Linked DNA regions of Homo sapiens. The protein of the gene in region 1 interacts with the protein of each later gene in a pairwise test. Each region holds a gene or a part of one and is shown on either strand. Other genes may lie near its edges.

Region 1 (3,924 bases):
GTTTGGTCTCGAACTCCTGGGCTCAAGCAATCTGCCCACCTTGGCCTCCCAAAGTGCTGGGGTTACAAGTGTGAGCCACCTTGCCTATCCTAGCTTGGCTTTCTTACAGTGTGGATGCTAGGATCTGAGGGGGAGGATTCACATGACCTTGGAATGATCTCATTTCAAGACCCCAAGGCCTTTCTTAAACTGAGACCTGTCATGTGGCATCATTTCTTCTGCATTCTATTAGTTATAAGTGAATCACAAAGGCTAGCACAGATTCAAGAGGAGAATTAGATCCCGTCTCTCAATGAAGGTGTCAAAGAATTTCCAATCATCTTTAATTTGCCACACTAATCCCATACAGGACTTGCTATATAGTCTTCCTCTTTTTCATATTTGTACTTCCTTTCTCCAATAATGAGAAACCTCATCCCTGTGTTTATTAATATATTTCTGTTTTCCTCAATCTTAGAATGCACTGAAAGTAACTGCAGAATTGTTAAATTATACCACTCCAAAAAAAACAAACATTCAGTATTTATTTACAGCACTTTTTGTCTTCAGTCTGAGAGTATATAATTAAAATAATGTGTTAAAATGTTACTTGGTTTGGGGTTTAAAAAAATCTGCTTCAGTGTGGCTGTTATACATTTGAAACACAAATTCTACTGGTATTCCATTTTATTTCCTCTCCTTCCCTCACAGATATTTTTTTAGGGGGAGTGGGGAGGAACTAGGTCTCTGTCACCCAGGCTAGAGTGCAGTAGCACCATCATAGCTCACTGCAGCCTTGAACTCCCAGGCTCAGGTGATCCCACCTTAGCCTCCTGAGTGGCTGGGACTATAGGTATGGGCCACCATTCCTGGCTAATTTTTTGTTGTTGTTGTAGAGGCTTGGTCTCACTGCATTGCCCAGGCTGGTCTCTAACTTCTGGCCTCAAGCAATCCTCCTGCCTCAACCTCCCAAAGTGCTGGGATTATAGGTCTGAGCCACCATGCCCGGCCTATCTCGTTTTTATTCTCTTTATTGTTTTCCTGCTTTTTAAATTTTTTCAGTGGCCCTAATTAGGTTTTTTATTTAAATCTGTTTTTCTATGGACACCCAGTTATTTAGTTATAGTTATTAGTTTTTATTTCTAATATGATTTTGCCTTTTTCTTTTATTTCATTCCTGAGCTCAGTCAACTTTTGTATCATTTCTTCCAGTTTTTGTCCATGTCGGTTCTTAGTTTTTTAACTTCTTATTTAGAGAGCATTTCTACTCCTCCTCATATCTCCAGATTTTTATTTGAGAATATTTAATTTTGTTTGGAGTGTTGTGTTACAGTTTTTCTGCTTCATGGTTTGCTTTCAGGAAGGGAAATTTTTATGAGATGAAGAGTTTGGGTTCTTATTGGTTTTCTTTTCTCTTTTTTTTTTTGAGACAGAGTATCGCTCTCTTGCCCAGGCTGGAGTGCAGTGGTGCAATCTTGGCTCACTGCAAGCTCCGCCTCCCAGGTTCACGCCATTCTCCTGCCTCAGCCTCCTAAGTAGCTCGGACTACAGGCGCCGGCCACCTTGCCTGGCTAAATTTTTTTTTGTATTTTTAGTAGAGATGGGGTTTCACTGTGTTAGCCAGGATGGTCTCGATCTCCTGACCTCATGGTCTGCCCACCTTGGCCTCTCAAAGTGCTGGGATTACAGGCATGAGCTACCATGCCCAGCCTTGTTTTCTTTTTATATAGTAGTTTTGTATAGATGAGAACTGCTTGTGCCTCTGCATATCTTGGACAACACAGTCATTTGGAATGATTTATGAGATCCCAGTTCAAGAGTGTTCTCTTCTGTCAGAGTAGCAAAGTATTTTTCTTTAATGGATGACTTGGGGTGGGAGAGGAATGCAAGTTTGTTTGTTTGTTTGTTTAATTTCCTTTTGCCCTACAAGATTGTAAATTTTGTCCTTTTTTCCTCTTCCTCTCATGGCTGAGCTTCCAAAAGGCACCTCCCTTTTCACCCATTCTCTCCCCTAAAAGCATTGCCTTTCGAAGACTGCCTCCTAGAGTCCCACATGCATTTTAAATATCTTCCTATAAACAATGCTTTAATCAACCAACATTCTTTTTTCAGTATTTTTATATTTGGGTAGGCTTTTTCTCTCTGGAGGTGATCTTATTTCATTTTAGACCCTCTATTTCCCTCTTATCTTGTTCATGTGTTTTTTTTTTCTCAACCCCATCTGGATCTCTGCAAACACTTGGGTGGGAGCTCAAGAAACTGGTTTTGGCTGAGTGTAGTGGCTCACACTATAATCCCAGCACTTTGGGAGGCCAAGGCAGGAGGATCGTTTGAGCCCAAGAGTTTGAGAACAGCCTGGACAACATAGGGAGATCCAGTCTCTACAAAAAAAGCTTTTTAAATTTTTTCTAATTAAAAAAAAAAAAAGAGGCTGGGCATGGTGGCTCACACCTGTAATCCCAGCACTTTGGGAGGCTGAGGCAGGCAGATGATGAGGTCAAGCAGTGGAGACCATCCTGGCCAACATGGTGAAACCCCATCTCTACTAAAAATACAAAAATTAGCTGGGTGTGGTGGTGCATGCCTGTAGTCCCAGCTACTCAGAAGGCTGAGGCCTTCTGAATCACTTGAACCTGGGAGGCGGAGGTTGCAGTGAGCTGAGATCACGCCACCGTGCTCCAGCCAGGCGACAGAACAAGACTCCGTCTAAAAAAGAAAAAAAGGCGGGTGGGGGGGAGCGGAATTTATTCTTCCACAAATTGGTGGGCTTTTTTAAACAAGTAATTTGAGGTTCTTGATATTCTCTGTATTATAGTAATACTAACACAAGGGTTTTGTGTAGTTTACTTATTATTCTTATTGATCTATATAGCTTATTATTTGGTAAAAATTCATTGACATCTTTCATATGCCATGTTTGGAAATACTTTTTTTGCTCATTATGTTGCTTTTGAAATTAACAGTTTTAAGTTTAGGAACTTGAATAAAACTTTTATTTGAAATACTGGTAGCTTTTTAAAGCATACTAAATTTTGAGGAATAATAAAATGCATATATATAAAGGATAACATTTTTCAGGAGCTAATTAAATTTTTGCAAAATTGTCTTAGATTTTATAGATTAAAAGTTAATTTTTAAGTGGCTGAGTCTTCAATAAAACAAATCTTTGGGAGAATTAAAGCTCCTTTATTTTTGGTATACTAAAAGGCAGTGATCAGCTAAAATGGTTTTAACTAAATGCCTCATCTTCATTGACTATAATCGTTTATTCTTAAGTGGCCATTTTTCAATCTCATTATAGTTTTAATGTCTAGATTTCTGATGTGTAAGGATTCAGGTGTTCAATGGACAGTGGTAAAATTGTTGGCAATTCTCTAGCAATGCATATTTTGGCCTCACGTCTTAATTTTTTAATGTAGATGCTGTTGCATGAAAAAGCAGAAGCCCTGCAAGAAGAGGTAGAAGAGTTACTAAGATTGCCTTCTGATTTCCCTGGTGCTGTGGCTTCTTCCACTGACAAAGCATGAAGCTATCTGATGAGAATTTTCATATATGAATTATTTATTGTACATGTGTGTTATTAAAGATAACTTATACTTTATAAATGAAAAAATACATTTCAGTTATACATTAAGAACTACGAATAATGTTTGAATATACCTCTTCCCACTAACAATTCATTCTTTGGAATACTTACACATTATTTCTCTGCTAAACAGACTATAGTGTCCACCACAAAATGAAATTCAACTTCATCAACATTGTGCTCAACCTTTTTATCCAGATCTTTCATTATTCTCTTACCCATTTCTTTCATCAAATTGGACTATTTGAAATCCCCAGAATTTTTCTTAGGATTTCCAAACCCTCCATTTCCTAACTGCTTTATATTATTTCCAATGCATGAAAATTATCTTTAAAATGCACTAATACTTCAAGGATTAA
Region 2 (3,924 bases), on another chromosome or scaffold:
CCTCAGCCTCCTCAGTAGCTGGGATTACAGGTGCGTGCCACCACGCCCAGCTAATTTTTTTTTTTTTTTTTTGTATCTTTAGTAGAGATGGGGGTTTCACCGTGTTGGCCAGGCTGGTCTTGAACTCCTGACCTCGTGATCTGCCTGCCTCAGCCTCCCAAAGTGCTGGGATTACAGGCGTGAGCCACCGCACCCAGCCTCAACATAGCTATTCTTGTATTACATATTACTTAGCAATTATTTATGTTTAAAGTTGCAATTACAGAGTATAGAACATTTTGGATTCTGCTGTATTTTGGTCTGTGTTTTTCTTTTGAATTGTGTCTGAGAAGAGGGGCAATTTCAAAATTAAGAGAGTAACAGATCATAGCCAAAATGTCCTTTTTGAATTGTCTTTGAAAACAAATCATTCTATTTTGTGTAAGTAAATGACCCTTATAACTCTGAGAATCTTATTTTCCTCTAGGTTAGAATCTGTATTTTTTAGATCAGTTTCATTACATTGTGCTAAAACATGTATATAACATAAAATTTACCATTTTATGTTTACATATAGTTCACTGGCATTAGGTACATTCATATTGTGCAGCCATCATCATCCATTTTCAGACCTTTTTCATCTTCCCATACTGAAACTCTGTACCCATTAAATGCTAACTCATTCTTTTTTACCCCCAGCCCCTGACAATCACCATTCTACCTTCTGTCTCTGAATTTTACTCCTCTAGCAACCCCATATAATTGGAATCATATAATACTTGTTCTGATGTGACTGGCTTATTTCACTTAGTATAATGTCTTCAAGGCTCATTTATGTTGTAGCATGTGTCAGAATTTTCTTCCTTAAGTCTGCATATTCCATTGTATGTACATACCACATTTTGTTTATTCATCTGTGGATGCACACTTGGGTTGCTTCCACCTTCTGGCTATTGTGAATAAGTTACAGTGTATCAGTTTTAAAGTAATTCTTAAAAGCAGTTTTTTTTTTTTTTTTTGAGATGGAGTTTCACTCTTTTTTGCCCAGGCTGGAGTGCAATGGCATGATCTCAGCTCACCGCAACCTCTGCCTCACAGGTTCAAGCGATTCTCCTGCCTCAGCCTCCCGAGTAGCTGGGATTACAGGCATGCGCCACCACACCCGGCTAATTTTGTATTTTTAGTAGAGATGGGGTTTCTCCATGTTGGTCAGGCTGGTCTCGAACTCCCGACCTCAGGTGATCTGCCTGCCTTGGCCTCCCAAAGTGCTGGGATTGCAGGCGTGAGCCACCGCGCCCAGCCAAAAAGCAGTCTTAAAGGTTTTTGTTTATATTTGTTGCTGTTACAGTACTTGAATATAGTTAATAAGAGCTTAGAAATTTATTTCTCAGCTACTTTTAGCTTTCAGTTTTATATTAATTGTATAAGACATAATAAAATCCCACCTAAGCAGATCTTGTTCTGTCATGACTTATTTTTGGGACATAATCATTTTATATTATTATTTTTGTAGAGATGGGGGTCTCACTATGTTGCCCAGGATGGCTTCAAACTCCTGGTCTCAAGTGATCCTCATGCCTTGCCCTCCTAAAGAGCTGGGATTACAGACATGAGCCACCATGCCTAGGTGCATCATTTTAAAACAATGTCGTCCTAGCTATTTTTATTGGGTGTAATATGAGTAAGTGTTTCTCATTTGTAGTATAAGAAATTATCATAATTCTTCAGCAATAATTAAAAAAACATGATTACTGCAGACAGTTTGGAAAATATAAGCAAGCAACCTTTACCTTGTGATAACAGCTTTTAACTTCTTGATTGTAGTCTTCTATCAATTCTTTTAGATGTGCGTATACATACTTATAAATATGGGATAATACAGTATAACTATTATTTAGTATATTATTAATACTTTCCTATCTCATTGAATATTTTCTTCCACGTTTAGTTTTTAGCATAAGTAATATCTCATCATATGTAAAATAATTTATTTGAATCAGTCATTGGACTTTTAGGTTGCTTTAAAATTTCATATAAACTCTGTTATATACATACGGGTAATTTGAAGGGTGTATTTTTAATATTTCTCTCCTTTTTGTGTTCTTAGAGAAAAAATAGAATTATTAATATAATAAACCTATACATTTAAATAATGAGTTTGGTCATCTGAACTTTTAATTAATTAAGTTCATGTGTTTGTATGTATTTATTCTTTTTCTTTAAGCAGGTTGGCAACATTGTACAAGTCACCCAGCCAGAAGGAATGCACAGTACTGTTTCAAATCAAAGTCAGTATTATTTGATTAGAGTGGGATTTTGATATTGATGGGCGGTAATTATCTAAAGAGAGAATTTACAACTTGCTTCTGTCAACTTCTGTAGGCAGCAAGCATATTTGAGGACAGCTTTTGATGCTTAGAACATTGTCCCCAAAATAGTAGTATATACAGAATATTGTAGTCACAAATGGACTGAAATTTATTCTTAAGAGCAGAGGAAATACTTATTTTGGGGTAGTGTGTTCCATGCCATATGTAATGTCAGGATATTAAAAATCTTTAAAGTGAAAGTTGTTGAAGATTTCCAGAAAAGAAAAAATACTAACATTACTTATTTTGGTCTGTAGGTATTATAGATCTATTGTAGCACCAAATATAGCCCACTTTAAGATGTTAATTCTTCTGTGAATTTACATCATAGAACACACATTTTTTGGCTGAAATATGCATATTTATCAATAGTGTTGAGCCAAATATATTTTTGGCATCTCTTTTTTTTTGAGATGGAGTCTCTGCGTCGCCCAGGCTGGAGTGCAGCGGTGCAATCTTGGCTCACTGCAGCCTCCGCCCTACTGGTTTAAGCAATTCTCCTGCCTCAGCCTCCCTAGTAGCTGGGATTATAGGCGTGTGCTACCACGCCTGGCTAATTTTTGTGTTTTTAGTAGAGATGGGGTTTCGCCATGTTGGCCAGACTAGTCTCAAACTCCTGACCTCAAGTGATCCGCCCTTCTCAGCCTTCCAAAATTCTGGGATTACAGGCGTGAGCCACCGAGCCCGGCTTTATCTCATTTTTATAACAACAAAAACAGAAATAGAGATTCTGAAACTGAATTATCCACTTAGTCTTTGCAGTACCCAGGTGTACTTGAAATATCCTAGTTGGGGAAAAAAAAGAGAGAGAGAAATATCATAGTTGGAAAACTTTAGAGTATTTAATTATGAAAATAAATCTGTAAAGTACCTAAGACTTAGGTTATTTCCTTTTACTTCTAACAAAGCTATCGTAAAGTTTGTTAGGATTGACCTTTAGAGAACATTTTTATAATGCAATGTTATTTCTGTGCGTGTGTATGCAAGGGTATAAATAAGTATATATAAAATACTCTTAATATAGCCCGGGCTTTGGCACGTATCCATGAGGTTTATTCTCTTCATTCACAGTGGTTGATAAATTTCTATCTCAAGAACTTTCTTTTTTTTTGAGACGAAGTCTCACTATTTCGCCCAGGCTAGAGTGCAGTGGCACAATCTTGTCTCACTGCAACCTCCGCCTCCCAGGTTCAAGCGATTCTCCTGCCTCAGCCTCCAGAGTAGCTGGGACTAGAGGTGTGTGCCACCATGCCCAGCTAATTTTTATATTTTTGGTAGAGATAGGGGTCACCATGTTGGCCAGGCTGGTCTTGAACTCCTGACCTCATGATCTGCCCACCTCAGCCTCCCAAAGTGCTGGGATTACAGGTGTGAGCCACTGCGCCTGGCCCTAGAATAAAGTAGCTTTCTTATTAGTTACTTAAAAATATTTCTAAGATCAGTCTTCAAATGTTCTTAAAGCATATTTGTATATATATTTTTTATCTTTCAGCCTCAGGGATTTAGAGATACTGTTGTTACTTCTGCATGTTCATTGCAAACAGAAGGTTCCTTGAGCACCCGGAAACGGTCACGA

Evidence for each region.
Region 2: the proteins of HELQ (region 1) and RAD51C interact in binary tests that used the Homo sapiens proteins (3 or more experiments, as listed by UniProt).

The regions. Positions count from the first base shown.
Region 1 is NC_000004.12:83,407,035-83,410,958, reverse strand, and holds the end of HELQ (helicase POLQ-like), read left to right. Parts: intron 1-3,398; coding exon 3,399-3,506; 3' UTR 3,507-3,613; downstream 3,614-3,924. UniProt on the Homo sapiens protein: Single-stranded 3'-5' DNA helicase that plays a key role in homology-driven double-strand break (DSB) repair.
Region 2 is NC_000017.11:58,730,278-58,734,201, forward strand, and holds part of RAD51C (DNA repair protein RAD51 homolog 3), read left to right. Parts: intron 1-2,203; coding exon of another isoform or gene 2,204-2,206; coding exon 2,207-2,267; intron 2,268-3,840; coding exon 3,841-3,924. UniProt on the Homo sapiens protein: Essential for the homologous recombination (HR) pathway of DNA repair. Involved in the homologous recombination repair (HRR) pathway of double-stranded DNA breaks arising during DNA replication or induced by DNA-damaging agents.